Linked DNA regions of Homo sapiens. The protein of the gene in region 1 binds, or shares a complex with, the protein of each later gene. Each region holds a gene or a part of one and is shown in the gene's direction. Other genes may lie near its edges. The genes, in order: SUMO2, ZNF451, UBE2I and ATF7IP.

What was found.
Region 2: the proteins of SUMO2 (region 1) and ZNF451 are in contact, whole or in part, in a crystal structure (PDB 5D2M), measured with the Homo sapiens proteins. Residues at the interface, in NP_008868.3 of Homo sapiens: Asn19, Ala23, Gly24, Gly27, Ser28, Val29, Val30, Gln31, Phe32, Lys33, Ile34, Lys35, Lys42, Leu43, Ala46, Arg50, Gln51; in NP_001026794.1 of Homo sapiens: Asp30, Ile31, Gln32, Phe33, Val34, Ser35, Glu36 (codon at 6,023), Gly37 (codon at 6,026), Pro38 (codon at 6,029), Leu39 (codon at 6,032).
Region 3: the proteins of SUMO2 (region 1) and UBE2I are in contact, whole or in part, in a crystal structure (PDB 5D2M), measured with the Homo sapiens proteins. Residues at the interface, in NP_008868.3 of Homo sapiens: Gln25, Asp26, Gly27, Arg56 (codon at 5,196), Gln57 (codon at 5,199), Ile58 (codon at 5,202), Arg61 (codon at 5,211), Phe87, Gln88, Gln89, Gln90, Thr91, Gly92, Gly93; in NP_003336.1 of Homo sapiens: Asp19, Asn85 (codon at 816), Cys93 (codon at 840), Leu94 (codon at 843), Ser95 (codon at 846), Ile96 (codon at 849), Asp102 (codon at 867), Arg104 (codon at 873), Ile107 (codon at 882), Lys110 (codon at 891), Gln111 (codon at 894), Leu114 (codon at 1,057), Gly115 (codon at 1,060), Glu118 (codon at 1,069), Leu119 (codon at 1,072), Glu122 (codon at 1,081), Asn124 (codon at 1,087), Asp127 (codon at 1,096), Pro128 (codon at 1,099), Ala129 (codon at 1,102).
Region 4: the proteins of SUMO2 (region 1) and ATF7IP are in contact, whole or in part, in an NMR structure (PDB 2RPQ), measured with the Homo sapiens proteins. Residues at the interface, in NP_008868.3 of Homo sapiens: Met1, Ala2, Asp3, Glu4, Asn14, Asn15, His17, Val30, Gln31, Phe32, Lys33, Ile34, Lys35, His37, Thr38, Pro39, Lys42, Ala46, Arg50; in NP_001375109.1 of Homo sapiens: Gly965, Val966, Ile967, Asp968, Leu969, Thr970, Met971, Asp972, Asp973, Glu974, Glu975.

What each region holds. Positions count from the first base shown.
Region 1 is NC_000017.11:75,172,727-75,180,006, reverse strand, and holds part of SUMO2 (small ubiquitin-related modifier 2 isoform a precursor), read left to right. Parts: intron 1-5,183; coding exon 5,184-5,255; intron 5,256-7,280. UniProt on the Homo sapiens protein: Ubiquitin-like protein that can be covalently attached to proteins as a monomer or as a lysine-linked polymer.
Region 2 is NC_000006.12:57,093,039-57,100,318, forward strand, and holds part of ZNF451 (E3 SUMO-protein ligase ZNF451), read left to right. Parts: intron 1-6,022; coding exon 6,023-6,103; intron 6,104-7,280. UniProt on the Homo sapiens protein: E3 SUMO-protein ligase; has a preference for SUMO2 and SUMO3 and facilitates UBE2I/UBC9-mediated sumoylation of target proteins. Plays a role in protein SUMO2 modification in response to stress caused by DNA damage and by proteasome inhibitors (in vitro).
Region 3 is NC_000016.10:1,319,388-1,326,667, forward strand, and holds part of UBE2I (SUMO-conjugating enzyme UBC9), read left to right. Parts: intron 1-786; coding exon 787-896; intron 897-1,050; coding exon 1,051-1,130; coding exon of another isoform or gene 1,131-1,272; exon of another isoform or gene 1,273-5,342; coding exon 5,343-5,406; 3' UTR 5,407-7,280. UniProt on the Homo sapiens protein: Accepts the ubiquitin-like proteins SUMO1, SUMO2, SUMO3, SUMO4 and SUMO1P1/SUMO5 from the UBLE1A-UBLE1B E1 complex and catalyzes their covalent attachment to other proteins with the help of an E3 ligase such as RANBP2, CBX4 and ZNF451.
Region 4 is NC_000012.12:14,361,148-14,368,760, forward strand, and holds the start of ATF7IP (activating transcription factor 7-interacting protein 1), read left to right. Parts: upstream 1-4,534; 5' UTR 4,535-4,680; exon of another isoform or gene 4,681-6,043; intron 6,044-7,613. UniProt on the Homo sapiens protein: Recruiter that couples transcriptional factors to general transcription apparatus and thereby modulates transcription regulation and chromatin formation. Can both act as an activator or a repressor depending on the context.

The sequences.
Region 1 (7,280 bases):
AAGTTGGGAAATTGAGTTTGAGTTTATACTTGAAAGATCAGTGAAGATAAAAACTTCCTTTAGGCCTGATGCAGTGGCTCATATCTGTAATCCCAGCACTTTGGGAGACTGAGGCAGGTGGCAGTTGACATCAGCCTGGCCACCATGGCAAAATCCCATTTCTACTAAAAATCCAAAAAAATTAGCTGGGCGTGGTGTTACACGCGCATAATCCCACCTACTCCGGAGGCTGAGGCTGAGAATCCCTTGAACCTGGGAGGTGGAGGCTGCAGTGAGCCAAGATCACACCACTGCACTCTAGCCTGGGTGACAGAGCGAGAGCATTTCAAAGGAAAAAAAAAAAAAAACTTTAGAATGTTTGAAGTATTTTTATGCCTAGTGTATTTACAATGTAATAAGAAAATACTGTGCTCATAATTGATATGTAAACCTTCTTGTATGTAGTTCCTTATAAAGATACCTTTTTTTTTTTTTTTTTTGAGACAGAGTCTCGCTCTGTTGTCCAGGATGGAGTGCAGTAGTGCAATCTCGACTCACTGCAACTTCTGCCTCCCGAGACCAAGCGATTCTCCTGTCTCAGTCTCCCGAGTAGGTGGGACTACGGGCGCACGCCACCACGCCCAGCTAATTTTTGTATTGTCAGCAAGATGGGGTTTCACCATATTGGTCAGACTGGTCTTGAGCTCCTGACCTCAGGTGATCCACCTGCCTCATCCTCCCAAAGTGCTGGGATTACAGGCGTGAGCCACTGTGCCCAGCAAGATACCATATACTCTTATTTGAAGAATTTTGCTGAAATCACCCTACATGAACTTATGAATTGTGTTAAATAATTTATAAACTGGCATCTTCTATATTTGAACACTAGTGCCCCTTCAGGATACAGGGGAATTTTAAAAGGTAATCCTTTTGGAGAACTTCTTTAGCAAAACTGCATACAAAATAGAAAATCATAGGCTGGGCGTGGTAATCCAGCACTTTGGGAGGCCAAGGCTGGAAGACCAGTCTGGACAACATAGTAAGACCTCATCTGGTTTTTTTGTTTTGTTTTGAGGTGGAGTTTTGCTCTTATTGCCCAGGCTAGAGTGCAGTGGCGCAATCTCGGCTCACTGCATCCTCCGCCTTCCAGTTTTAAGCGATTCTTCTGCCTCAGCCTCCCAAGTCACTGGGATTACAGGACCTCGTGAACCACCCGCCTCAGCCTCCCAAAGTGCTGGGTTTACAGGCATGAGCCACTGCGCCTGGCCCAGACCTCATCTCTTAAAAAAAAATTAGGTGGTTGTGGTGGCACATACCTGTAGTCCAGGCTATTTCAGTGACAGAGGTGGGAGGATTGCTTGAGCTTGGCAGGTCTAGGCTGCAGTGAGCCATGATCTCATCGCTGCACTCCAGTGTGGGTGACAGAATGAGACCCTGTCTCAAAACCACAAACAAACAGAATCATGCTTCAGTTTGGTGGTTTTGAACAGTATTCTTTTCTTTTTTTTTTTTTTTTTTGAGAGTCTCGCACTGTTGCCCAGGCTGGAGTGCAGTGGCACCATCTCGGCTCACTGCAACCTCTGCCTCCTGGGTTCAAGCGATTCTCCTGCCTCAGCCTCCCAAGTAGCTGGGACTACAGGTGCGTGCCACCGTGCCCAGCCAATTTTTGTATTTTTTGTAGAGACGGGGTTTCACAATATTGGCCAGGATGATCTCGATCTCTTGACCTCGTGATCCGCCTGCTTCGGCCTCCCAAAGTGCTGGGATTACAGGTGTGAGCCACTGGTGCCTGGCCTTGAACACTATTCTTATGCATATCTTATTTAACTTTTCTGCAATTGCAAAATTTTGCCTTTTTTTTTTTGAGACAGGCTTTTGCCCTGTTGCCCATGCTGAAGTGCAGTGGGAGGATTATGATCATGGCTCACTGCATCCTCTGCCTCCCAGGCTCAAGCAGTCCTCCCACCTCAGGCTCCCAGGTAGTTGGGACTATAGGCTTGTGCCACTGGGCGATTCTTTTTTTTTTTTTTTTTTTTTTTGAGACGGAGTCTCGCTTTGTCGGTCAGACTGGAGTGTAGTGACATAATCTCGGCTCACTGCAACCTCCACCTCCCGGGTTCAAGCAATTCTCCTGCCTCAGCCTCCTGAGTAGGTGGGATTATAGGCACCTACCACCGTGCTCGGCTAATTTATTTTTCGTAGAAACGGGGTTTTACCACGTTGGCCAGGCTGGTCTTGAACTCCTGAGCTCAGGTGACCCACCCGTCTCGCCACCTCGGCCTCCCAAAGTGCTGGGATTACAGGCATGAAGCACTACGCCTGGCTTTTCTTTTCTTTTTTTTTTTTAAGATGGAGTTTTCCTCTTGTTACTGAGGCTGAATGCAATGGCGCAATCTAGGCTTACTGGAACCTCCGCCTCCCAGGTTCCAGTGATTCTCCTGCCTCAGCCTCACAAGTAGCTGGGATTACAGGCATGCACCACCACGCCTGGCTAATTTTGTATTTTTAGTAGAGACGGGGCTTCACCATGTTGATCAGGTTGGCTGCTCTGAAACTCCTGACCTCAGGTAATCCACCTGCCTTGGCCTTCCAAAATGTTGGGATTATAGGCGTGAGCCACTGCACCTGGCCACCATGCAAATTTTTTAATTTCTTTTTTTTTGAGATGGAGTCTTGCTCTGTTGCCCAGGCTGGAGTGCAGTGGCATGATCTCAGCTCACTGCAACCTCTGCTCCTGGGTTCAAGCAATTCTCCTGCCTCAGCCTCTTGAATAACTGGGATTACAGCGCCTGCCACCTAGCCTGGCTAATTTTTTGTATTTTTATTTATTTAATTAATTAATTTTTTTTTTTTTTTGAGACAAGAGTCTCGCTCTTGCAATGGCACGATCTCGGCTCATTGCAACCTCCACCTCCCGGGTTCATGCAATTTTCCCCCCTCAACCTCCGGCTGGAGTAGCTGGGACTACAGGTGTGTGCCATTGTGCTCAGCCAATTTTTGTGTTTTTAGTAGAGACGGGGTTTCACCATGTTGGACAGGCTGGTCTCGAACTCCTGACCTCAGGTGATCTTCCACCTCAGTCTCCCAAGGTGCTAGGATTACAGGCGTGAGCCACAATACTTGGCCTTTGTTTTTAAGTAGATGATGGTTATATACTGTTTTTCATCCCTTTTATGCCACTGATACTTACTGAGCAGCACCTACTATGTGCAAGGGATAGACTGTGTAACTAAAACAGTCTAGGTTCCTATATCTCCTGAAGTGTGTTTTTTAGTAAGACAGTAAGTAATTACAGATTTGGGTAAGTATTAAAGGAAATTAAAAAGCGGTGCTTTTTTAAAGCTATTCCAGGAAGTTCAAGGGTGTAGGTTGGGGCATTTTAGGTCGGTTTTGTTGTTGTTGTTGTTGTTTTTGATATTGAATCTGGTCTGTCACCCAGGCTGGAGTGCTAGGGCACGATCTTGGCTCACTGCAAACTCCGCCTCCCAGGTTCAAGCGATCCTCCTGCCTCAGCCTCCCGAATAGCTGGGATTACAGGCGGATGCCACCACACTCGGCTAATTTTTGTATTTTCAGTAGAGGCGGGGTTTCACCATATTGGCCAGGCTGATCTTGAACTCCAGACCTCAGATGATCTGCCTTGGTCTCCTAAAGTGTTGGAATTACAGTGTGAGCCCCCGAGCTCAGACTGGAGTCTTTAAATGGGCATTTTTTTCCTTTAAATTTCCTGTTAGTGGCCAGCCAGGCGGATCACGAGGTCAGGAAATTGAGACCATCCTGGCTAACACGGTGAAACCCCATCTCTACTAAAATACAAAAAATTAGCCCAGCATGGTGGCATGAGCCTGTAGTCCCAGCTACTGAGGAGGCTGAGGCAGGAAAGTCACTTGAACTCCGGTGGTGGAGGTTGCGTTGAACTGAGATTGTTCCACTCACTCCAGCCTGGGCGACAGAGCGAGACTCCATTTAAAAAAAAAAAATTTCATTTCCTTGTCTAACTCATTTAAATGCATATTTGTCTCAAGGTATGTTCTATTTAACATTATAGTAGCTGTGTCTGAAAAGCAGTAAAGCTTTCTAAAAGAATGACTTACTGGCTGGGCGCAGTGGCTCACACCTGTAATCCCAGCGTTTTGTGAGGCTGAGGTGAGTGGATCACTTGAGGTCAGGAGTTCGAGATCAGTCTGGCCAACATGGTGAAACCCTGTCTCTACTAAAAACACAAAAATTAGCTGGGCATGATGGCAAGCGCCTGTAATCCCAGCTACTCGGGAGGCTGAGGCAGGAGAACCACTCGAACCCAGGAGGCGGAGGTTGCAGTGAGCCAAGATCGCACCACTGCACTCCAGCCTGGGCGACATAGCAAAACTCTGTCTTAACAAACAAACAAAAACAACAACAACAAACAGGCCGGGCACAGTGTCTTATGCCTGTAATCCCAGCACTTTGGGAGGCTGAGGTGGTCAGATCATCTGAGGTCAGGAGTTCGAGACCAGCCTGGCCAACATGGCGAAACCCTGTTTCTACTAAAAAATACAAAAATTAGCCAGGCATGGTGGCGCCTGCCTAGTCCCAGCTAATCAGGAGGCTGAGGCAGGAAAATTGCTTGAACCCAAAAGGTGGAGGTTGCAGTGAGCCGAGATCGCGACACTGCCCTCCAGCCTGAGTGACAGAGCAAGACTCTGTCTCAAAAAAAAAAGAAAAGGAAAAAAAATACTACATCTTACTGTTCACTGAAAATGAGAGGCTGGGCACCATGGCTCACTCCTGTAATCCCAGCACTTTGGGAGGCTGAGGCGGACGGAGCACCTGAGGTTAGGAGTTCGAGACCAGCCTGGCCAACCTGATGAAACCCAGTCTCTACTAAAACTACAAAAATTAGCCGGTTGTTGTGGCGGGGGACCGTAGTCCCAGCTACTCTTGGGAGGCTAAGGCAGAAGAATCGCTTGAACCAGGAGGTGTAGGTTGCCTTGAGCTGAGATCACGCCACTGCACTTCAGCCTTGACAACAGATCAAAACTGTCTCAAAAAAAAGAAAATGAAAATCACCCCAAATCTTTTTACCTATAGGGTATGTTAACATGTTGGCAATTGTTTATTTAGGTATTTCTTTAATATATTCATGGTTAAATATGCATGTACTTTTATGTAAATAGAATTCTGTTTCTCTTAATGCTGTTTATTGCTTTTAAATTCTCGTTCAGGGATTGTCAATGAGGCAGATCAGATTCCGATTTGACGGGCAACCAATCAATGAAACAGACACACCTGCACAGGTAAAAAAATCTCTCCTAATTAGAAAAATTACCATTTGTAATTCTTTGAACAGCTGTGTTTATGAATTTGAACGTTTAGACACTGGAGTATAAGTTCTTGTAGAGTTCAGAGCTTTGGGAAGTATGACCAGAGGGGAACAGAAAGGAAAATAGGAATAGGCTCAGGAAATGCCAATGGTTTTTATTCATTTATTTTTAATTTTCATTTTAATTATTTTTTTAGGGACAGGGCCTCTCTGTTGCCCGGGTTGAAGTGTAGTGGCCTCATTATAGCTCACTGCAGCCTTGGCCTCCCAAAGTGATGGGATTATAGGCACGAATCAATGTGCCCAACCCCACCAGTGGTTTGTGTTTGTTTTTTGTGACGGAATCTCACTCCATCGCCCAGGCTTGAGTACAGTGTCACGATCTTGGGTCATGGCAGCCCTCGCCTGCCATGCTTAAGCAATTCTCCTGCCTCAGCCTCCCAGAGTAGCTGGGATTACAGGCATGCACCACCATGCCTGGCTAATTTTTGTATTTTTGGTAGGGATGGGGTTTCACCATGTTGGCCAGGCTGGTCTTGAACTGCTGACCACAAGTAATCCGCCCGCCTTGGCCTCCCAAAGTGTTGGGATTGACAGGTGTGAGCCACCGCACCCAGCCAAATCCTCACCATTTTAGTTCTACATGCTGAATTGAAATTCTCTTTTACGTGTCTTCATGAACAAAAAGGAACTAATAGCCCTAATTGCCACGTCCCATAGCTTTGTTTGACAGGGAGAGCCCCTGATAATAGGAGATTTTCCAGATCCTTACTACAAAACGTGATGCTCTCTGATCCTTTAACTCTTTATGTACCACTTCATTTTGTTCTGTCACTTTCTGTAGGATCAGCTGGATTGTCTTCTGTGGCAGAAGCTCTTTGTTTCTTTTTACCCTTTCAAAGTTCCATTAAATACTTCCAGTTTTGTCCTAGCAGGGTGGCTCATGAGAGCCATTTTCAAGATTACAAAGTGCTTGTAATGCCAGCACTGTGACGCCAAGGTGGGCGGAGCACTTGAGTCCAGGATTTCAAGACCAGCCTGGGCAACATGGCAAAACCCTCTCTTTACAAAAAAATACAAAAATTAGCCAGGGAGCAGTGGTACGTGCCTGTAGTACCAGCTACTTCTTAGGGTGAGGTGGAAGGATTGCTTGAGCCCAGGAAGTGGAGGCTGCCGTCACCCAAGATGGTACCACTGCACACCAGCCTGGGTGACAAAGTGAGGCCCTCTCTCAAAAAAAAAAAAAAATGACTTCCAGTCTTGTCCTGACTTGGTGGCTCACACCTGTAGTCCTATCACTTTAGGAAACTGACACTGGCAGGAGGGTTGCTTGAGGCCAGGAGTTTAAGACCAGTCTGGGCAATATAGCAAGACCTGGTCTCTACAGGAAAGAAAAAGAGCTGGGCATGGTAGCATGTGTCTGTAGTCCCAGCTTCTTGGGAAGTTTAGTGGGAGGGGTGCTTGAGTCCAGGAGTTTCAGGCCGCAGTGAGTTATGATCATACTACTGCACTCCAGCCTGGGCGATAGAGCAAAACTCTGTCTCAAAAATAGAAGACTTACAGTTTCTGAAACATATTTTACAATGTTGTGATAGTAGAAATTTAAATTGGATCCCATGTACTTTTGAATTTCAACTTTATCACCCAGTAAAAACTAGAAAGTGATAAATGTGGCATGAAGCAGCACATCCAGATTGTAGTTTTGTTGATAATCTTTGAAAATTGGAAAAGCCCCTGAGTTGTACTGAAAAGAAGAATATTTTGAAGACATTTCAACTGGTGACAGTCTCTCAAAAGGAATTACGGGCCAGGTGCACTTGTTCACACCTGTCATCCTAGCACTTCAGGAGGCTGAGGCAGGCAGATTGCTTGAGGTCAGGAGTTTGAGACCAGCCTGGACAATATGGTGAAACCCCGTGTCTGCCAAAAAATACAAAAATTAGCCAGGCATCGCCGGGCGCAGTGGCTCATGCCTGTGATCCCAGCACTTTGGGAGGCC
Region 2 (7,280 bases), on another chromosome or scaffold:
ACTTCTTATTTAGGTCTGTTGTTCTTATTTCTGTTTAGTAATATGATCCTTTATTCAACTACTGTTTTTATATCTTTCTTTGAAATTGCAGATTTTTTATGTGATTTACTTCTAAAAAACTAATAGCTGATGATGTGATAGTTCACAGTGCTGTTCTAGATATGAAGGTATACAAACTGCTGAGGGAACCTATCGTAATTTTGCTAACAAAACAATACAAGAGATTCAGGTTTCAGCCAAGATTATTGATATAGTGTAGCATCATTGGAAGTCAGTGAAATCAGGATATAATTTCCTAAATAGCTTCAGTACCACATAGATCAAGTATTAATACTTTAGCTGCAGAAGGGAGTCAGGCAGAAAATAGTATTATTTGGCTGGGTGTCTTGGGGCTGTGATTGGTTTAATAAATAAAAAGTGTTGAAGCTCATAATATGCAAAGCCGTGAGTTAAGTTCCTTAGAGCTACAAGGATTAATTTGAAATACATCCTACCCTTAAGGGTCAGTATTTTAGTGTGAATGATGAGATAGGAGGTGAGAAGTATGTAAATAGTCCTTAGAGGTAGTAGAAAGTTCTCTTACAGAAAGTACATAGTGCTGTTAAAAAAGGACATAAGACTTGCAGTTTATCATAGTAGTAGTTAGTAGTAGTAATAAGTAGTAGTTAGGATTTATATGTGTTTAAAAGGGCATTTTGAGTAGAAGAAACAAGGAAAGGCATCAGAATGGGAAAGCAGAGAGGATTATGTGTAGTCGTGAAAGATTTTTTGTTGTTTTTTAAGGTGGGAGGAGGCGGCATGGGCCAGGTAGTATAGATCTTGAATGTTGGATTAAATTTGAACTATAAAACAGGCACAATTGGAAACTATTTGAAATGTTGCCTGTCAGGACTGCACAAGTAACCTGTGTCCCTGACTTCTCTATATGGGGGGAAAAATGAATTATTTAGGGTTTCAGATTTATGCTCAAATCCATATTCTTTGTTTTAGAGAAAACTTTGGTTGTAGTAAACTACCTTTTTAGTAGACCATATTTTGGTGTATTGATATCTCTTTCCAATTAGTAGGAAATTGGTGTTTTGGCTTAGAGAATCAGTTTTCTCATAACAGGAATGAAAGCTTTTTATTTCATGAAACATATTTTAAAACTTAGAATATTGGTTTAACTGTTTTCCTAAACTGTTTTGCCATGCTTCTACATGTGCTTCTGCCCCTAAATTGTGTGGTATTGGGAATAGAATTCTTTAATTTTTAAATTTTATTTTTATTTAATTTTTTATTTCTATTTCAGAGACAGGGTCTCACTCTTGCCCAGGCTGGAGTGCAGTGGTATGATCATAGCTTACTGCAGTTTTAAACTTGTGGGTTCAAGCAACCCTCCCTCCCCAGCCTTCCGAGTAGCTGGGACTACAGGTGCACTCCACCATGCCCTGCTTAGAATCCTTTATTTTTTGTTAGTGGTGCAATAGGGCATGAGAATGATGGTTTACTAGTTGATGGATAGAACAAATGCAAATAAAAATACCTTGTAATTACAGGACCATACGCAGTTATAGTTGTTAAAGATATAAGTAGTAATTATAAATATTATACCAAATTATTTTTTCTTGATATTTTTATTATAAACATAACTTCTTTTGAGAAATTGGTAATTTATTTTTGGTCAGTGTTACAAAGTATTCACAGATGGGGTAATAGAGGTAGTCCATTTTCTCTTAAGGAAGAAAAAATGTGTTATTTCAGGAACTCAGGTAATAAACATTGATTTAAAAATAGTATTTATGTTTTGAACTACCTCACAATTATAGTGCCTGTACAGCCAGTTGTGTTTAGAGAACCAAGTATACCCCACTCAGTTTTCCCATCTGTTAAATGGGATAATACTGATAATTCAATATCTCACCTTGTAAAGTAATTTGGGGGATTAAGTGAAATGTACATTAAAAGCTTTGCACAAGGCATGGTACAGGGCTCAATAAATGTTATTGATTCTTAGTCAAATAAATGGAGTACTAAATGTTTTACTTCCGTAAGCTCATTATCATGGAAGTTTTTCCATATTCACTGAAAATTAGCTAGTGTACACTATTTGTGTATAAGTAATCTTTTCCTTTGGGGTACATGTCTGTCCTTATTTTTCCACTCAATCTCTTTGCCATTTTAGTGATTTTCAACATGATTCCCCTTCTCATTCTACTCTGTCACTTAAAGCTCAGTAATTATTTGTTGAATGTATAAATATTCTAAATGACTTCTGTTTTTTCTCAATTTTGGATTTTCTGTGATACTTTTTTTTTTTTTTTTTTTTTTTAAAGAGATAGGGTCTCAGTCTTGCTTAGGCTGGAGTGCAGTGGCGTAATCATAGCTCACTGCAGCCTTGAACTCCTAGGCTCAAGCAATTCTGCTGCCTCAGCCTCCCAAATAGCTGGGACTACAGGCACGCACTACTGTACCCAGCTAATTTATTTTATTTTTGTAGAGATGAGGTCTCACTGTTCTGTCCAGGATGGTGTCAAACTCCTGGACTCAAGTGATCCTCCGTCATCGGCCTCCCAAAGTGCTGGGATTATAGGCGTGATCTACCACGCTCGTCTGGATTTTCTATCCATATTTTCCTTTTTTTCTTTTCTCTTAGTGTGAATCATATAAAATTATTGTTCTTCAGTAGTTGAAAAATGTTTGCATATTGGTTTAATGGTTCACTGCAAGAATAAATTTCTGATAACCTTATTTGTCCTTACTCCTTCCCTTTAAATATTACTGCAGCTTTTTTTTTTTGTTGTTGTTGTTGTTGTTGTTGTTGAGACAAGAGTCCCTCTCTGTTGCCCAGGCTGGAGTGCACTGGCGTGATCTCAGCTCTCTGCAACTTCTGCCTCCTGGGCTAAAGCGATTCTTGTTCTTCGGCCTCCTGAGTAGCTGGGATTACAGATGTACACCACCACGCCCAGCTAATTTTTGTATTTTTAATAGAGACAGAGTTTTGCCATGTTGGCCCAGATGGTCTCGAACTCATGGCCTCATGTGGTCCACCTGCCTTGGCCTCCCAAAGTGCTGAGATTACAGGCATGAGCCATCCTGCCTGCAGCTATTTTTAAATTATGTTTTTGATCATTTTCTTTCTTCCTTTCTTTCTTTCTGTTTTTTTTTTTTTTTTTTTTTTTTTGAGATGGAGTTTCGCTCTTGTCACCCAGGCTGGAGTGCAGTGGGACAGTCTTGGCTCACTGCAACCTCTGCCTCCCGGGTTCAAGCAATTCTCCTGCCTCAGTCTCCTGAGTAGCTGGAATTAGAGGCGCCCACCACCATGCCTGGCTAATTTTTTGTATTTTTAGTGGAGACAGGGTTTTACCATGTTGGCCAGGCTGGTCTCAAATTCCTGACCTCAGGCAATTCGCCCACCTTGGTCTCCCAAAGTGCTGGGATTACAGGCATGAGCCACCGTGCCCAGCCTGTTTATCTTATTTTTTTCCAGCCCATTTTACTTTTTACCTTGCATCCTGTCATCTTTCATCTTCTTCTTTACTTTCTGTGCATGGGAACTCTGCCTCTGTGTATTTCTGGTTACCGGGGCGGGGGGGTAGGGGGGCGCTTTTGTGTTCTGCTATTTCTGTGGACCTATAATGAAGGTTCCTAATGCATATTTCTTGTAGAGAGCAAAGTAAGATGATTATATCAATGGGAAAAGCTATCATTTTAATTTTTCTTCTTGGATCGAACATACAATTTTCAGTCTTTTTTTTTTTTTTTTTTTTTTTTTTGTGACAGAGTCTTGCTCTGTTGCCCAGGCTGGAGTGCAGTGGCACCATCTCAGCTCACTGCAGCCTCTGCCTCCTGGGTTCAAGCAATTCATCTGCCTCAGCCTCCTGGGTAGCTGGGACTACAGGTGCCCGCCACTACACCCTATTCCTATTTTTAGTGGAGACAGGGTTTCACCATGTTGGCCAGGCTGGTCTTGAACTCCTGACCTCAAGTCATCTACCCACCTCTGCCTCCCAAGGTGCTGGAATTACAGGTGTGAGCCACCGTGCATGGCCTACATTCTTCATACCAGATGTAGATTTTAAAGTAGGTGATTCAGCTCTGTTTACCATATATTGGAGAGTATTGCTTCCTCTGTTTCTTTAATTTTTACTTCCGTGTTTATAGTTTGAGCAAAAATCTCAATTCCTTTGCTACAGATCCCTGCCCAGTTTTGCCCTCTTGTTTTATCTTGGTATCTGAATTAGTACCCAAAAGATGGCAGTTTCTTGGTTGAGCAGAAGTCATAGCCTAGGGGAGAAAGAAGCTATCTTTGAGACTGGATGCCTATTCTAGGGAAGATCATTACCTAGATCTCAGCTTCTGTCTCCAGCAGTCAACTTTCTACATCCTACAAAATCCTTTCCTCAGCTATTATTTCTTCTGTGTTCCTTTCTTTTGTTTCCAACATACTGGATTTCTCAAAAGAATATGGCCTTTTCTACTGCATTCTCTAGTGTTTTAGAGCCTGGCTTCTGTGCTCACTACTTTCTTGAAAGTTGCTCTCTCAAAGACATTTAAAAATGTCTGGTTGCCACATTCAGTGGCATTTTATTGTTGCCGTGTTTCTGGCCACATTTAACACTGACAGCTTTTTATTGAGGCAATATGATAGTTCAGTTTAGTTCTAGAGTTTAATAGTCTTCTAGGGGAGCAACTCTCAAGTCTTTATTTCCAGGTATGTTCATACTTCCCAGATTACAGGCCTGCATTTCCAGCTGTCTGCTAGATACACCCTGTGTACCACTGTTACTTCAGCCCATAGGAATGTCAGCTTTCTGTTTCTGCTTTCCAAAGTTATACTATTGGCATTACTATTCTTATAGTCACCTGAGGTTAAAAACTTAGAGATCACTGACTCCTTGTTTTGTTTTTTAAATAATCTTTTAAATTTATTTTTATTTATATATTTATTATTATTATTATTATTATTATTGGGATAGTCTTGCTCTGTTGCCCGGGCTGGAGTGCAGTGGCGTGATCTTGGCTCACTGCAACTGCTGCCTCCCAGGTTCAAGCAATTCTCCAGCCTCAGCCTCCTGAGTAGCTGGGACTACAGGCACGCACCACCATGCCTGGCTAATTTGTACATTTTTAGTAGAGATGGAGTTTTACCATGTTGGTCAGGCTGGTCTCGAACTCCAGCCTGGCCAACATGGTAAAACCCCATCTGTACTAAAAGTACACAAATTAGCCAGGCATGGTTCTAACCTCAGGTGATCCCCCACCTTGGCCTCCCAAAGTGGTGGGATTACAGACATGAGCCACCACACCTGGCCTAATAATCAATCTCTTTTAGTTTTCCATTTTACTTGTATTCTCTTGTATATCCACTACCATACTCTTCTTGCCATCACCACCATTAGTTCTGCATTGTCATGTGCCTATACTGATTATCTTGCTTTCCCTGCTCTCCATACTCCTCTATGTGATTGATCTTGAAGCACAGTTCTCATGTTATTGTCTTATTATTATTTTTTATTTTCTTTTGCCTATTGAATAAAATCTAGGCTTTTAAGCCTGACATTCAAGGCCTGGTTGATGAAGAAATTGGCATGGATGGAAAGAAAGAATGGAAAAGAATTCAGGTTTGATGCTTGACTCTGCAGTGGTGGATGATGAAGCTGAGCTATAAGTCAATTCATTTTTGAACTTGGATATATTAACAGACTTTTGATACCAATTCTAGGTGTAAAGCACTGGATTATAATATTTGTGTCTTTGTAGCACTGTTCTTATATTAATTTTCCTTTCCCAAGTAATTGACATGGCCCTAATATTCTACAGGGGTGTAGGTGCTTCCTTTTAGGTCTTGTCATCATTTTACATTTATATATTTTGAATATTTTCCTCTGCTGCTTTTGTTCTGGTTATTTTCTGCTACCCACAAAGCTCCCTCTTCAGAGTAATTCTTGCCAGTCCCAACCAAAAAAAACACTGTAGGTTTAAATGCTAATTTGGTTTGAATAACTGTTAATGACTTCTAAATTTGCTTGATTGTTTATAGGAAGGACCATTACGACCTGTTCTTGAATACATTGATCTGGTCAGCAGTGATGATGAAGAGCCTAGCACCTCTTATACTGATGTAAGTACATTATATTTGATTTGTGTTTCTTCACTTGTGTCTTTTAAGAGGTATTCTCTAAAGAGAGTTACCAAATCAGGGAAGGCTGTGTTTAGAAATAGCCAGTTCTATTAGAATGGGCTAAAATAGGTAGTCCAAGGAGTCCTTTGCCCAGATCTCCTACTTCCAGTTTTTTTCCTCTACTTTGAATGAGATTATGAAAAAAATGATAATATGACTCTGGGAAATTCAGAGCCTTAGAGGTGATATCTGATAAAATGGAAATGGAATAAAAACTGCAAGCTTATTGATTCCTCTTTCCCTTCTCTTTTCCTTTACTCTCCTCAGGTGCCCTATACAACAGGATTCTTTTGTTCCAGAACCACATGACCACAGAAAATTTGTTTTCTCTTAGAAAAAAGGATATGTAGAGATCCTTTTAGGAATGGAAAGTGGGGGAAGGGTTTATAGGGGATATATTACTTCAGTCATCATCCCTTTAACCTTGTCTGTGCCCCACATATTTGGAGTTATTTATCTTACCTGTGATGTACTGGTTGTAGGTTTGACCCTTGGACCAATACTTCCCTTGCTCTGAGAATTGAACTAGTTGAGCCCTTTGTAACAGTCTTGCCTTTCATTTGTCCTTGCTTTAGCCCAAACTTCTGTTAATGAGCTGTTTTCATCTTGGATTAGAAAACTCTTAGTTATTGTTCAGAGTGGCCACAAACTTCTTGCTCTGTGATATAGGGGATTGAGACTTGGACTTGGAATCAGAATACCTGGGTTTGAGTCCCAGCTTTACTCTTTACAAATTCTGTGACTTTGGATAAATTAAGTAACCTTTTAGCCTCCGTTTTTTAATCAAATAATACCTACCTCACAGGGTTGTTGTGAGGATGAAATGAGGTAACAAATTATAACTTCTTATAACTACAAACCATAAAGTAGGACTATACAACTGGGAAGTTTTGTTATTCGTGGACAGTGAATGACAGAATTTTCAGAGGTGCCTAAAATGACTCTAATGGGGGAGTTTTAGATTTTTTTTCTTCTCAGTGGAACTTTCCTTAAGTTCTCTTTGCCATCATTAGCTTCTTGCATATCTTGAGTAGAACTTAACATATCTTGAATGGGATATTTTTTTCTTTTATTCTTATGAGTGGTCTCACACAGGACCAAACAGCAGGCCAGCATA
Region 3 (7,280 bases), on another chromosome or scaffold:
AGGGAGTGTGCCCTGTGCATCTCCATGGTACCTGAAGTCCAGGAAGCTGCCTGCGGATGTTGCAGTTGGGATTACGGGGCAGATGCAGTGGTCGGTAGGAGCGAGTGTTCGGGGAAGCTGTAGGTGTTCGTGGCGCGTTGGCTTTCTGGTAATTCCTCCGGCTGCACTAGACATGCCGCACTGTGTGTCCTTCCGTAGCATTGAGAGAGAAGAGGGAGGATGCCCAGGTAAAAGATGGGAAATAGCCTAGAATATCAACTGTGATGGTCCCTGGTGGGGCTAATGGTGGCAAACTTTTCTGCTTTTTTGTAAAGAAATAACACAGGGTCCTAAAAGCCCGTATATCCTGGAAGCAGAGGGTCTGCGTCGGAACAGCCGACTCTGGAAGGGCGTTGGCTATGTCCCTGGACGTCTCCTGCAGCTCCTCCCATCTCCCCTGAGTCTGGCCCAGCTGGAAAGGATGTGGGGGCCACAGGTTAAGTGGCCACCCTGGGGCCTGTGTTCCCAGACTGCCTGGCTGTGCTGGGAGTTCTGTCCTGGGAGAGACACAGCTTCGTCTCGGCTGCGGCCGTGTCCCCAAGGCTCTGTTCCCTGTGTGCAAAGGTGGATATGTCTTCCTTTAGTCTCCTCATGGCCACAATTTAATTTTTTTGAAAAGTTTTTGGCCAAATAACCTGGCTACCAACCCGGGGCCCCAGTGTTGGGAGGAGGGTGATGTGGGGAAGGACGTGACTCTGGGACAGTGCCTGCCTCCAAAAAGTGCTTCCTTTCTTCCTCTTCCTCCAGGTAAATTCGAACCACCATTATTTCACCCGAATGTGTACCCTTCGGGGACAGTGTGCCTGTCCATCTTAGAGGAGGACAAGGACTGGAGGCCAGCCATCACAATCAAACAGGTACGGGGCCTCCGCCTCTGGCACCGGCAGGGCTGCCTTAGTCTCCCCTCCGGACACGTGGGTCTGTGGTCATTCTCTGTGGCTGAGGCCGAGTCTCACGGTGTCTCCCTTTCAAACTGCTCACACCCGTCTTGTGTTTTTGTCTCTGGCACAGATCCTATTAGGAATACAGGAACTTCTAAATGAACCAAATATCCAAGACCCAGCTCAAGCAGAGGCCTACACGATTTACTGGTTAGTAGCAGCCCTGGCCCCGCTGGTGGCAGCTCCTCCCCGTCCCAGCCAAGGCCGCCTGGCAGGACGGGAGTGGAGGACACAGGCTCACCCTACGGACAGCCAGGGTCCACGCCTCTGTGGGGAAGGTCGGGGGGCATAAACCCTGTGGGCAGCAGGCACCGTTGCACACCGTCTGCGGTGGGCATGGATGGCGCCGGAGCCGTGTCCCGGGGAGGGAGCAGGCCAGGTGACGGGCTGTCTTGGGCCACTGCCCCAGTGAGTTGTGGCCAGCTAGGAGGGGAAGGACCCTGGGCGTGGGTGCCAGAGGAGGCCATGCTGAGAGGCCTCTCCACCGGCTCAGCCTCCCATGGACCCCAGCCTCCCGCGCCGCCCTTGCTGCTTGTCCCCATCCCCTCTACAACTTGGTTCCTTCTGTGGGGGGGCCCAGCCCAGCAGGGCTCAGTGACGTGATGCTGTCACACGGACCCTGGGCTTCCACCCTGTCCCTGTGAGGTGCTGCTGTGGCTAGAAGGGTCCCCGTGGGCCTGGGGTCCTGTCTGCACCGAGGAGGGCCTGGTGTGAGTTAGGATGCAGACGACAGCCAAACAGTGCTGGGGAAAGCAGGGAGGACCCTGCCCTGAGCAGAGGCCATGCGCCCGCCTGTCCTGTTCCCTCTGCAGCTGTTCTGGGCAGGTCCATAAGAAGGTGGGTTGGGGCCTCCGACCCCCCACTGCTCCGCCTGCAGCGTTGAGAAACCCAGCCCCATCTCACCACGGGTCCCCACACCTCTGAGGGGGTCTCAGGGCCCCCAATGGCCAGGGACCCAGAAGGCTCACCTGCAGCCACCCCACACATCCCTGCCACTGTGGGCATCAGAGGCCCTCTCCCTCCAGGGTGCATCTCCTGGTCAGGAGGGGGGAGGCTGAGGGGTCCCGGTTGCCTTAGGCCCGGCCTGCACAGGTCGTGAGGAAAAGCACCTGGTTTCGGCCGGGCGCAGTGGCTCACGCTTGTAATCCCAGCACTTTGGGAGGCCGAGGTGGGTGAATCATGCGGTCAGGAGTTCGAGACCAGCCTGGCCAACATGGCGAAACCCTCGTCCCTACTAAAAATACAAAAAATTAGTTGGGCGTAGTGGTGGGTGCCTCTAATCCCAGCTACCTGGGAGGCTGAGACAGGAGAATCACTTGAACCCGGGAGGCGGAAGTTGCAGTGAGCCGAGATCCTGCCACTGCTCTCCAGCCTGGCGACGGAGGAATGCTGTCTCAAAAAAAAAAAAAGCACGTGGTTTTGGAGAGATGTGTTTCTCCCTGGATGCGGGCCCAGCCCAGGTGTCTGCAAGGTGCCCTCCCTGGTGGCCGAGGGTGGCACAGAGGCCCCAGGCAGGGAGCAAGTATCACAGCAGCCACCCCAGGCTCAGCCTGGCTCCCCTGCATGGTGGTGCACACCTGTAGTCCCAGCTATTTGGGAGGCTGAGGTGGGAGGACTGCTTGAGCCCAGGAGGTTGATGCGCAGTGAGTTGAGATTGCAGCACCGCAATCCAGCCTGCTTGACAAAGCGAGACCCTGTCTCAAAAAAAAAAAAAAACTCATAGCCGCTCAGTCAGCCAAGCCATTGCTGGAAGTGGCTCGTGGGACGTGGCGTGACCTGGGTTTGTGTGCTGGCCTGCTGTGCCCTAGGAGTCCGTGAAATGCATTCCCTTGGACAGGAAGCCACAGTGCTCGTGGGTGTCCACATGGCCCTTGAGGCAGAAAATGTTTTCTTTTTTTTTTTTTTTTTTTTTTTTAAACAGAGTCTCACTCTGTCGCCCAGGCTGGAGTGCAGTGGTGTGATCTCAGCTCACTACAACCTCTGCCTCCTGGGTTCAAGTGATTCTCCTGCCTCAGCCTCCCAAGTAGCTGGGATTACAGGCACCCACCACCACACCTGACTAATTTTTGTATTTTTAGTAAAGACAGTGTTTCACCACGTTGGCCAGGCTGGTCTCGAACTTCTGACCTCAGGTGATCCACCCGCCTCGCCTCCCAAAGTGCCGGGATTATAGGCATGAGCCACCGTGCCTGGAAAATGATTTCTAGGCCAAGTGTGGTGGCCCAACACCTGTAATCTCAACACTTTGGGAGGCCAAGGTGGGCTGATTGCTTGAACTCAGGAGTTCATGACTAGACTGGGCAACATAGCGAGACCCTATCTCTACAAAAAATTAAAAAATTTGCCAGGGGTGGTGGCTCATGCCTGTAATCCCAGCACTTTGCAAGGCCACTGTGGGACGTTACCTGAGCCCAGGAGTTGGAGACCAGCCTGGGCCACATGGCAAGACCTGCTCTCTTTAAAAAAAAAAAAAAAAAAAAAATTAAGCCGGGGATGATGGTGCATGCCTGTAGTCCCAGCTATTTGGGAGGCTGAGGTGGGAGGACTGCTTGAGCCCAGGTGGTTGATGCTGCAGTGAGCCAAGATTGCAGCCTGGGTGACAAAGTGAGACCCTGTCTCAAAAAAAAAAAAAAAAGCATGCCGGGCGCGGTGGCTCACGCCTGTAATCCCAGCACTTTGGGAGGCCAAGGTGGGCAGATCACGAGGTCAGGAGATTGAGACCATCCTGGCTAACACGGTGAAACCCCATCTCTAGTAAAAATAAAAAAAATTAGCCGGGCGTGGTGGCGCACACCTGTAACCCCAGCTACTCGGGAGGCTGAGGCAGGAGAATGGCTTGAACCTGGGAGGCGGAGCTTACAGTGAGCCGAGATCACGCCACTGCACTCCAGCCTGGGCAACAGAGCCAGACTCTGTCTCAAAAAAACAAAACAAAAGGCAAATGTTTTCCTGCCTAGCCCTTAGATGGTCTGCCATCCCCAGCATGGTGTGGGCGTGAGCTCTGTCTGGCCTGCACCCCATTTGCCGACCATCTCCAGAGCTGGGCTGTGGCTCCCATCTGCGGCGTGGGCTGGGCAGGGTTGCAGTCCCCCGCCCCGTGTGACTCTCCCCAGCGTCTCCTGGGCTTGGTGCCTGCTGGGCTGCACTGTACACTTGCGTGCACGTAAACAAACGTTCTTTCTCCTACACACATCCGCTTGAAAAGCACCCTTTGTGAAGCATGTGTGCGGGTTTCAGATCGTTTTTCCTGGGTTTCCTGGAGGCCTTGGACCGTGTTCCTGCCCTGGCAGGTGCCTTTTCTCGGGGCCTCTGCTTGGTCAAGGAAGAGCTGGGACGTGTAGCCACCGCCTCTGGTTCCTTCCACGCCCACCCAGCTGAGCTGCTCTGCCCTGGGGCCGGCTGGTGGCCCAAGGAGGGCGCTGGGGTCTGGGCTGCGGTCCAGGCCCTTGGCGTGGGTGGGGGTGGCACCGGCGCTGCTGCCGTCCTGGGCTGTTCCACCATGCAGAGTGAGGCTCAGTGTCTCAGACCAGGTCCAATCCTGGCGAGACTGGCAGGACTGCGACCCCAGGAGCCACCTCCATAAATGTCATGGTGTTCCCCCATCCTCAGGGTCACACTGCACCCTGTGACCCATCAGCCCCTAGGTGCAGCCTCGGCCGCCCTCCCGCCCACCTGTTTTGCCCGGGCAGTGTGTGCCATGCCACTCTCCTGGGCAGCTGCTTGCAGGCTGAGCCTCACTCTACCCAGCTCCAGACCTGTTCGCTGATGCCCCTGCACTGCCCAGCTCGGGCACAACGCCTTCTCAACCAGGCCTGCCTTCCCACACCTTTGCCCCTGCGGCTGAGAGCCTCATGGAAAAACCCTCCAGAAATTGGTGTCTATTTTTGGGAATTAACAAAAACAGTGGCAAGCAGTCAGTGTTTTCAGTTTATTAGGACTGTCCCCAGACCTACAGAAAAGAGAAGCTGCTGATTACTAGTTAGGACCAGACTTGGCATCGGCAACGATGTTGCAGGCCCTGGCGTGGGCCCTCTGGGCCTGAGCCCTCCTCGCAGCCCTGCGGGACCCCTCTGTCCCCCTTGAACACCACGTTCACCCAGCGTGGGTTCCTCTCCTCCCTGCCCTTCTGCCCCCGTCAGACCACGGGACAGTCTCAGCCACGTCAGAGCCAGCATGGGCTCCCCACCACGCAGGCCTCCCTGCTTCTCCGGGCTTCTGCTTCTGTTACTATGACGAGCTCCACACTGCCCTCCCCCAGGAGGTCCCATCCTGCAGCCTGGTCTGCCCAGCTGGCTCCGGGGCGAGCGTGAGGGCCAGGCAGCTCAGCCCTCTAACACGTCTCTTCTCTTTTGACCTCCTCAGCCAAAACAGAGTGGAGTACGAGAAAAGGGTCCGAGCACAAGCCAAGAAGTTTGCGCCCTCATAAGCAGCGACCTTGTGGCATCGTCAAAAGGAAGGGATTGGTTTGGCAAGAACTTGTTTACAACATTTTTGCAAATCTAAAGTTGCTCCATACAATGACTAGTCACCTGGGGGGGTTGGGCGGGCGCCATCTTCCATTGCCGCCGCGGGTGTGCGGTCTCGATTCGCTGAATTGCCCGTTTCCATACAGGGTCTCTTCCTTCGGTCTTTTGTATTTTTGATTGTTATGTAAAACTCGCTTTTATTTTAATATTGATGTCAGTATTTCAACTGCTGTAAAATTATAAACTTTTATACTTGGGTAAGTCCCCCAGGGGCGAGTTCCTCGCTCTGGGATGCAGGCATGCTTCTCACCGTGCAGAGCTGCACTTGGCCTCAGCTGGCTGTATGGAAATGCACCCTCCCTCCTGCCGCTCCTCTCTAGAACCTTCTAGAACCTGGGCTGTGCTGCTTTTGAGCCTCAGACCCCAGGTCAGCATCTCGGTTCTGCGCCACTTCCTTTGTGTTTATATGGCGTTTTGTCTGTGTTGCTGTTTAGAGTAAATAAACTGTTTATATAAAGGTTTTGGTTGCATTATTATCATTGAAAGTGAGAGGAGGCGGCCTCCCAGTGCCCGGCCCTCCCCACCCACCTGCAGCCCCACCGCGGGCCAGGACCAGGCTCTCCATCTGCTTCGGATGCACGCAGGCTGTGAGGCTCTGTCTTGCCCTGGATCTTTGTAAACAGGGCTGTGTACAAAGTGCTGCTGAGGTTTCTGTGCTCCCCGCATCTGCGGGCTGTAGAGCGCTGGGCAGCTAAGATCTGCATAGGTCGGGATTGGCATCGAGACCCTGGCAACTGCACCGGTGCCAGCTGTCTTGGGGGCCACAAGGCCAGGTCCAGACCAGGGCTGGGGGCTGCCTGAGGACTCCTATCCGGGCAGCCTGCTGGCGGGGGTTCCCCTCTTCAGTGGCCAGGTCACAGGGATGGAGCTGCGCTGTGCATAGGGTGCCACCTCAGGTGTCTGTCCCTTGTGTCCTCAGGAGGCAGCCTTGCTACCACCCGTGGCAAACGCCAGGTGCTTTTTCTGGGAGAGCCCACAGCCGTGGCCCTCCAGGGCTTCCCCGACCCTTAGCGCCAGGTAGAGGGCCCTGGGCAGCCTGTGTCTGGAATTCTTCGTCCTGAGGCCACCTGAGTGTGGTCTGTCCTGGGGAGGCTGTGCGCCTCAGCAGCCGTCCTGACGCTGAGCCCTCTGCAAAGGTTGGGCCGGCCAGGCCTCTTGGGGCTGCCTGAGCCACTGCAGGAAGTGGCCTGGCTGGGAAGTTGGGTGCCGGTCACCTCCCAGCAGGAAGGCACAGTGGACAGAGATGGGAAGCCCTGGGGGACACAGCCCGGTGCTCCCAGCCCTCCAACCTCTGGCTCCCAACCCAGTCTCCCCATCCTAGCGAGCTTGGCCCTCCTCAGTTTCGTTTCAAGCCTTGGGGCTGGAGCTGGCCCTGCTGCCCTGGCACCCCCCGGTGGCTGGAGCTGGGTCCCCGTGGCCCAAGTGCAGGGTCCCAAGAGGGCAGGGCGGGGCTCCCCAAAGGAGCAAAGAATGCAGGGAGGGCGGTCCAGGGCCCTGGGAAGGGGAGCTCGGCACCCTCCAGGTCCGTGTGGGACTCCAGCCGCTGTTGGCTGGGAATCGAAGTTAGAGGTGACTTCCAAAGGCCCCCCGAGCCGGCAGTGCCCCCCACCACCCCTCCAGCGACTCTGCGGTGCCAGTGCCTTGTTGGCTTTTCCGGCTACGCACCCTGCAGTCACTGAGCTCTCGGTCTGACGTCTGATGTTTGTGGTTTGTTTATAACACGGGGCCTTACCTGGGGAATTCAGCTGGTTTGAATATTTGTAGCCCGCTCCCA
Region 4 (7,613 bases), on another chromosome or scaffold:
ATGTTGGCCAGGCTGGTCTTGAACGCCTGACCTCAAGTGATCCGCCCACCTTGGCCTCCCAAAGTTCTGGGATCACAGGCATGAGCCACTGCACCCAGCCTAATTTTTGTATTTTTTGTAGAGACTGGTTTTGCCATGTTGTCCAGGCTGGTCTGGAATTTCTAGGCTCAAGTGATTCACCTGCCTCTGCCTCCCAAAGTGCTGGGATTACAGGCATGAGCTGTGCTTGCTCGGGAGGGCTATTTTTATCATCCCCATTTTATAGACTGGGAAACATTTGCGTAGAGAATTTCAGGACACTAAACAAGTAAGAAGTAGAGCCAAGGTTTCAATTCAGGTAGTAAGCCTTCAGAACCTGAAAGCACTAGATTAAGCTTCCTGTTTTATTATTTTGTACTCAGAAACTTCAGTTTTCCATTTCAATGGCTTTTCGGAGTTTATGCTGTTTTTCTTTTTTTTTCTTTGATATGGAGTTTTGCCCTTGTTGCCCAGACTGGAGTGCAATGGCATGATCACAGCTCACTGCAACCTCTGCCTCCTGGGTTCAAGCAAATCTCCTGCCTCAACCTCCCAAGTAGCTGGGATTACAGGCGTGGGACTAATTTTATATTTTTAGTAGATATGGGGTTTCAACATGTTGGTCAGGCTGGTCTCGAACTCCTGACCTCAGGTGGTTCACCTACCTCGGCCTCCCAAAGTGCTGGGATTACAGGTGTGAGCCACCGCGCCCGGCCTATGCTGTTTTTAAAAAGTTCTGTTTTCTTTGTTCAGTTGCTACAACTGAAATGTATTGGTTTATATTTATTATTTTAGTTTAGGTCTTTTTTTTTTTTCTTTTTTTGTGAGACAGGTTCTATGATCCTACTTTACTCTAGCACTTTTTCCTAGGAAAATTATATTTAGCCTGTATCATTTTAGCCTAAATATACCAATAAAAACATAATGGTAGATAAAATATGAAAATCCTTTTGTACTAACTGGTAAGTAGCTGCCCCATCCTACCACACCCTTCATACCACCAAGTCAGGCTCAGTCCCCAGCTGAAGAGCCTCTGGACCTCTTCAAGATCCTACAACTAAAGAATTAACACCTGACAAAATAGGGTGGGGGGAGGGAAGTCTTCAAGCCTGCTTCCATTCTGATTGGTCAGTGATATAGGGATTGATAAATATTTTAAATGTGGTCCTACCTAGAAGTCTTAAGTTCAGCTTTTTTCATTCTTCATTGTTTTTGTATTTTCTGTTATTTTCTAACTTGAATACTTTCTTTTGTACCTAGTCTGACAGCCTAGGTACAAAGTTCTACATCATAAGTCAGGTCAAGTATCACTTCCTCTGTGAAGTTTTCCCATATAGTATGAGGAAGATTTAGGTTCTCTCATTTTAGAATTTTTTTATGCTTAAGACATACCACCAAAATATTAATGATCTCATAATGTTTATCTGTATTTACAACTCTTTCCCCATGAGAAACAGTGTCATTTCCTTTGGGCATCCCCAGTGCCCAGAATAGTTTGTGAGACATTATAAATATTGTATTCATTGAACAAATCAATGAATAGTTGATTAGGTCAACCAGCGGGTTTGCATGGCTGAAGAGACTGTAACTGTGGTTGAGGATATCTGAGGAGATTCGAATCCAATAAAATTGTCTAGTTGGAGTCTTCAGGAGGCAAGTCTAGAATATGAGCATATCTAAGAAAACTGATAAATCTGTGGTTATGCTGAATTATTTTTCCATTTGCTATTAGCATGGATAATCAAGAATAGACTATCATAGGCCAAGCATGGTGGCTCATGCCTGTAATCCCAGCACTTTGGGAGGCTGACGTGGGCAGATTACCTGAGGCCAGGAGTTCGAGACCAGCCTGGCCAATATAGCAAAACCCCATCTCTACTGAAAATACAAAAAATTAGCCGGCCGTGGTAGAGTGTGCCTGTAGTCCCAGCTACTCAGGAAGCTGAGGCAGGAAAATCGCTGAACCTGGGAGGCAGAGGTTGCAGTGAGCTGAGATCGTGCTACTGCACTCCAGCCTGGGCAACAGGGCAAGACTGTCTTAAAAAAAAAAAAAAAAAAAGAAAGAAGGCCAGATGTGGTGGCTCACGCCTTTAATCCCAGCACTTTGGGAGGCCGAGGCGGGTGGATCATGAGGTCAGGAGTTTGAGACCAGCCTGGCCAAGATGGTGAAATCCTGTCTCTACTAAAAACACAAAAATTAGCTGGGCGCGGTGGTGGACGCCTGTAATTTCAGCTACTCAGGAGGCTGAGGCAGGAGAATTGCTTGAACCCGGGATGTGGTGGTTGCAGTGAGCTGAGATCACGCCACTGCATTGTAGCCTGGGCAACAGAGCAAGACTCTGTCTCAAAAAAAAAAAAAAGAATAGACTATTATAAAAATGATTCTTTTTTATATGCTTACAGAAGACATAAAAAGAGAAACATAATGGGCTCTAGTATTCCAATCCAATTTCTCTTATTATTATGGAGTGTAACATTTAATATCAATATTTCTAATTTTCTGAGCATCTACTTATAATTGAGCACTGATGTACTATGAAAATTATAATAAATAAATTATAATTGAGCATCTATAATTTATTGAGTATATGCTAAGGACTGTGCTAATGATGTTACAACATTTAGCGATTAAACAATGCAAATTTAATTGTGTTATATCCCGACTTAAAACCTTTTAAATGATTCCTCATTGCTGTCCCAATGAGGTCCAACTTTTAGGCAAAAAATTAATTAAATCATTTATCATGATAGAGATGACCTCTTCTAGGAAGGCTTTTCTAATTCTCTAGGTCTGGATTAGGTGATATTTCTTTTTTTTTTCTTCGAGATGGAGTCTCACTCTGTTGCCCAGGCTGGAGTGCAGTGGCGTGATCTTGGCTCACTGCAACCTCTGCCTCCCGGGTTCAAGTGATTCTCCTGCTTCAGCCTCCCGAGTAGCTAGGACTACAGGCGCGTGCCACCACGACTAGCTAATTTTTTTTTTTTTGTATTTTTAGTAGAGGCGGGGTTTCACCATGTTACCCAGGATGGTCTCGATCTCCTGACCTCATGGTCTGCCCGCCTCGGCCTCCCAAAGTGCTGGGATTACAGGCGTGAGCCACTGCACCCGGCCCTAGGTGATATTTCTAAAGGCCACCTTATATTTTAAGTAAATTGAATGGTTCCAGTTATAAAAATAAGTATTAACAACCCTATTCTAATTTCTTATTAGTTACAAAAATTTCTTGTTCAGTTTTCTGTCTTCTTCACTAGAGTACAGATTTCTTGAGGACAGGCACCTAACAGATCTACAACACAGTGATTGCTAAATAAATACTGAACCAATACATTCATATAATGAGAAGTTACATAAAAAAACAATAACCACACGGTACCATCTAATATTATTTTCAGGCTATTCTTGCCTTGCAAAACATATGTACTTTTATTCTTTTTTTTTTTTTTTTTTTTTGATAAGGGGTCTTGCTCTGTAGCCCAGGCTGGAGTGCAGTGGTGAGATCTTCGCTCACTGCAATCTCGGCCTCCCAGGTCCCAGTTCAAGCAACTCTCCTGCCTCAGCCTCCTGAGTAGTTGGGATTACAGGCACGCACCACCATGCCTAGCTAATTTTTGTAATTTTAGTAGAGACGGGGTTTCACTATGTTGGCCAGGCTGGTCTTGATCTCCTGACCTCAGGTGATCCACCCCCCCTCAGACTTCCAAAGTGCTGGGATTACAGGCCTGAGCCACGGCACCTGGCCAAAACATATGTACATTTATTCTATCATTTAGTGCTTCCAACCTAGTTCAACTATAGTCATGATTGCCATTATACAGGTGAGAAAACTGAGTAACACACTTATTCCGAGGAACCGGCAAGGAAGCTGCAGTAGTTGAACTTGAACCCAGATCTCTTAACCAGTAAGGCAGTGACTTGTCCACTACCTCCTGTGGAATTCATTAAAGGCCGACTCCCAGCATGAAATTGAATAAATGGGATGAATACAACTTCTGGTGAGAGAGTATGATAAAAAGTGCTTGCTCTGTTACCAAGCAACTGAAAGAAAGTATGTTTTTTTCATTCCTTCATTATTAATACAATTCAAAGTACATTCTGTGAATTTAAAACATAAATGATGAATAAATCAACATACTCCTGGCTTTTATGAAAATCTTTCCCTCTGCTCTTTAAACTCTCACCTACCTCCTTCCTTCTTTCTTTTCTAAGCCTCATAGAGGGCGCTCACAAAGTGCTACTTATTGATTGAGGAAGATCCACTCAAAAAACACACCTCACACTGCAACTGAGAGACGCAGCGCCACCACCTCGGGCTTCCTTCTCTTTTCCACGCAGGAGGCGGGGCCAATGTCCCTCATTCAAATAAAAAACCAGAATTTGCATGGGGAATGGCTAGTCCTTGAGCTTATTGGCTGATAGCACAGTGGGCGGGGTACATAGCACGACCCCCCGGAGCCCCGCCCATATTAATTTGCATAACGGCCCCGGCGCGTGCAAGGGAGAAGCGGGTTTGTTTTTGAATCTGCGGAGGCGGCGGCGGTGGCAGCGGCGGCGCGGCGACTGAAGCGCGCGAAAAGCTGAGGCGGCAACGTCGGGGACGGCTGCGCGGGACGGCTCTGTAGGAAGGAACTTGGTTCCCCCTCCCTCAGCTTCCGCCCCAAAAGGTATATGTGAATCCCAGGGGCTGTTAAAACCACATTTTCTTAAATTACTATTGTATTTCTGAAGAGTCAAGACCGCATTATGGCGGCTGCGGGAGTTGTGTCTGCGCCTGCGCGGTTGCGGAGCTGCGGGCGGCGCTGCATGGGAGCACGTGATCTTGCGGGGTCGGGCTCTAGCTGCAGTTGTGCAGCTGGCGGGGCGGTGGCTGCGCAAGCGCAATATTCATTTTCAAGATCTAATGTTCTTGTTGGACGCCATTTGGGTTCTAGATTTAATTTTCCTCGTTCTTGAGGGGTTTCTTTGTGTTAACCTTAAATTCTCACAATTTTCAAGAAAAACATTACTCTAATGTTGTACTCCTGGGCCGACCTCAAGCTCTTCTCTGTTTTTTCGATTTTTTGAAAAATTGTGGACTTAATTTTCTGTAAAAATGATTTTCATTTGTGGTTCTTGATTATAATTTCAGTTTTAAAGTATTACTGGATTCAGGTTTATATTTACGGTGGTAAAGATCAGCACCTAGTGGTGTTCTCACGGGAAGTGCATTTATTTGAACTGCATATTTGCAAATACATTTTTAACCCTATTTTTACCTGTTCTGTTATGGATGTGTGGAATGTTTACAAAACAGAAACAATTTTAGTTTTGGGAATATTGGGGGAACGGGAATAGTGGAAGAAATTACAGTATAATCGAAAATGAAATCTCAATCTGAGGATTATTTTGGTTTTAAATGTTTGATCCTAAGTAAATAAAGTTTTAATTTTAATCAGTTTGTATGTTTCTGGGCATTTGAATTTTACATGTTTTAAGTTTCTTAGGTGACTTGTTCATTACTGCTTCAGCTAGATTATTGTTACTTTTGAAATTAATCAACTCATTTTCTTAGCATTTTTGTTTGCTATGATATGTAAGCTATAACATTTATTTGGTAAATTTTTCTGATGAAGAATTCTAGAAAGAACATCCATTACCCTGAGGCCTCTTTGAAGAAAGTGGACCATTAATAAAAAAAATCTGTTTTTTTCTTTTAAACACTGTACTGTATGCATGTGTGTAAGATACAGTTGTGTTTGATTTTTTAATTGTAAGTGTGCTCCTGGTTTTATTAATAGTTTTTTAGGGAAGGTAATTATAAATATGCTACTGATTAGTTTAAAATGGTAGTGTCAACTATAGTTAAATCTTATGTAACACAATTGGGGGAAGTTATATAAGATTTGATATGATTCTCCCGTTGTGCAAATTCTTTCTTACTAAGCAAAGAAACTTGCAAATGTTTTCCATAGACTTCATTTGTGGTTCATATATACAACAACTGGTTTCTTGGTTGGTTATAACTCTTTAAGTTTGAATCAGTCTACTGTCAAATGAAGACGTGCCTCTTGCTTTATAATCTCGGTTAATTTAGGGAAATTTTTATTGCCTAAAACAAATACCATTAGTAAATATTACCTAGATGTAATTGAAAGTAATACTTTTGGTTGGTGGATTTTTAAATGACGTCACATATGAGATAGAATGGAGGTAGGAAAGATTCTTCTTTTTTTCTCAAGAGAATATTTGACCTGATGTAATTCTTGGATCTCTGAGGTCTTCTACACAGAAGTATATTTAGAGAGCAGTTGTGTAATTTTCTCCCTTTTATGTTTCTGGAGTGGTTACCTAGCAGCCCCTTTCTACCACATGCTATTTCAGGCATTTTCGAGTTGAACATACACATAAATATTTCGGTTAACAAAAGAACTTTGATCTTTGATCTTAGGGCATGGTACACTTTACATTTCCAGAAAAATGAAATAGTTTGGTGTATATAAGCGTATGTTTTCATTTGAATATACAGATGATTGCTTTTTAGGTTAATATTGAAGGTAGTAAGAGGTATTTGAAAATGCTCTTGAATATGAAGAACATATTTATTGATGGGACGATTTTGCTGTCATGTTTCTTACAAGGCAGATATAATCATGTAAACTTAATAAGATTAATTAATTGCCTGAACACCAACTATTTGTTTATTAGTACTTTGTCAATAACAAGTATATTTTAAAATTTTAGTTTGGTGGTTATGATGCCACAAAATTTTGACACATATCCAACATATATAAATATTAAGACTAGGTTACTCCAGGAATGAATACCAAGTTACTGAAGTTATTTAAAATCTTTGTAGTTTTGTAAATTTAAAAATTTATATGTAGTTTAGAAAAGACAGGTTTGAGTTATTAAACAATTAGAACTATTTTTTCTTTAAATTAGGTTTTGCATATGTGATAAATGTATTTAAATATTTTTAAACTTATTCATTATAGAACATTTGGAAAATATTGAAAATTAATTAACAATGCTTAGAAATAACCACTCTAAAGGTATTGGTGATTTGTGACTTCACTTTTCCATGATTGAGCAATCTATAAATGTTTATTAATTAGTTTTTCATTGGTACCATAATTTCATTTCTACTCTTTTAATGTTATGAGTATTTTCCCATTTCATTATTCTTCTAAAATATGTCTTTAAATGGTTGCATGATACTTTATTATAATATCCCACATGATCAAATGTTCTTTTTAAACACATTTTAAAATGGTTACATATTATTGTTATCTCTAAGAAGAATTTACTGTGATTTATTAAACCTTTCATTTTTTGTTTCCTGTTTTGCTTTTTGCTCATTTCTCTATTAAAAATAATGCTACAGTGAACGTTCTTGTACTATACCTCAGAATATTTCTTTGAAATTACTTTCAAAGGACTTTTAAAGTAATTTGCAAAATTGATAAAAACTTTTTTTTGAAAAGCATTTTTTATCATATTCAATACCACCATCAATTAGATGGGTGAAAAATAGTAGCTCATTAACTTTTTTTGATAACTAGTGAAGTTGAATTTGTTATTGTTTTATATATGCATTTTTTTCATTTTCTGTGAATTA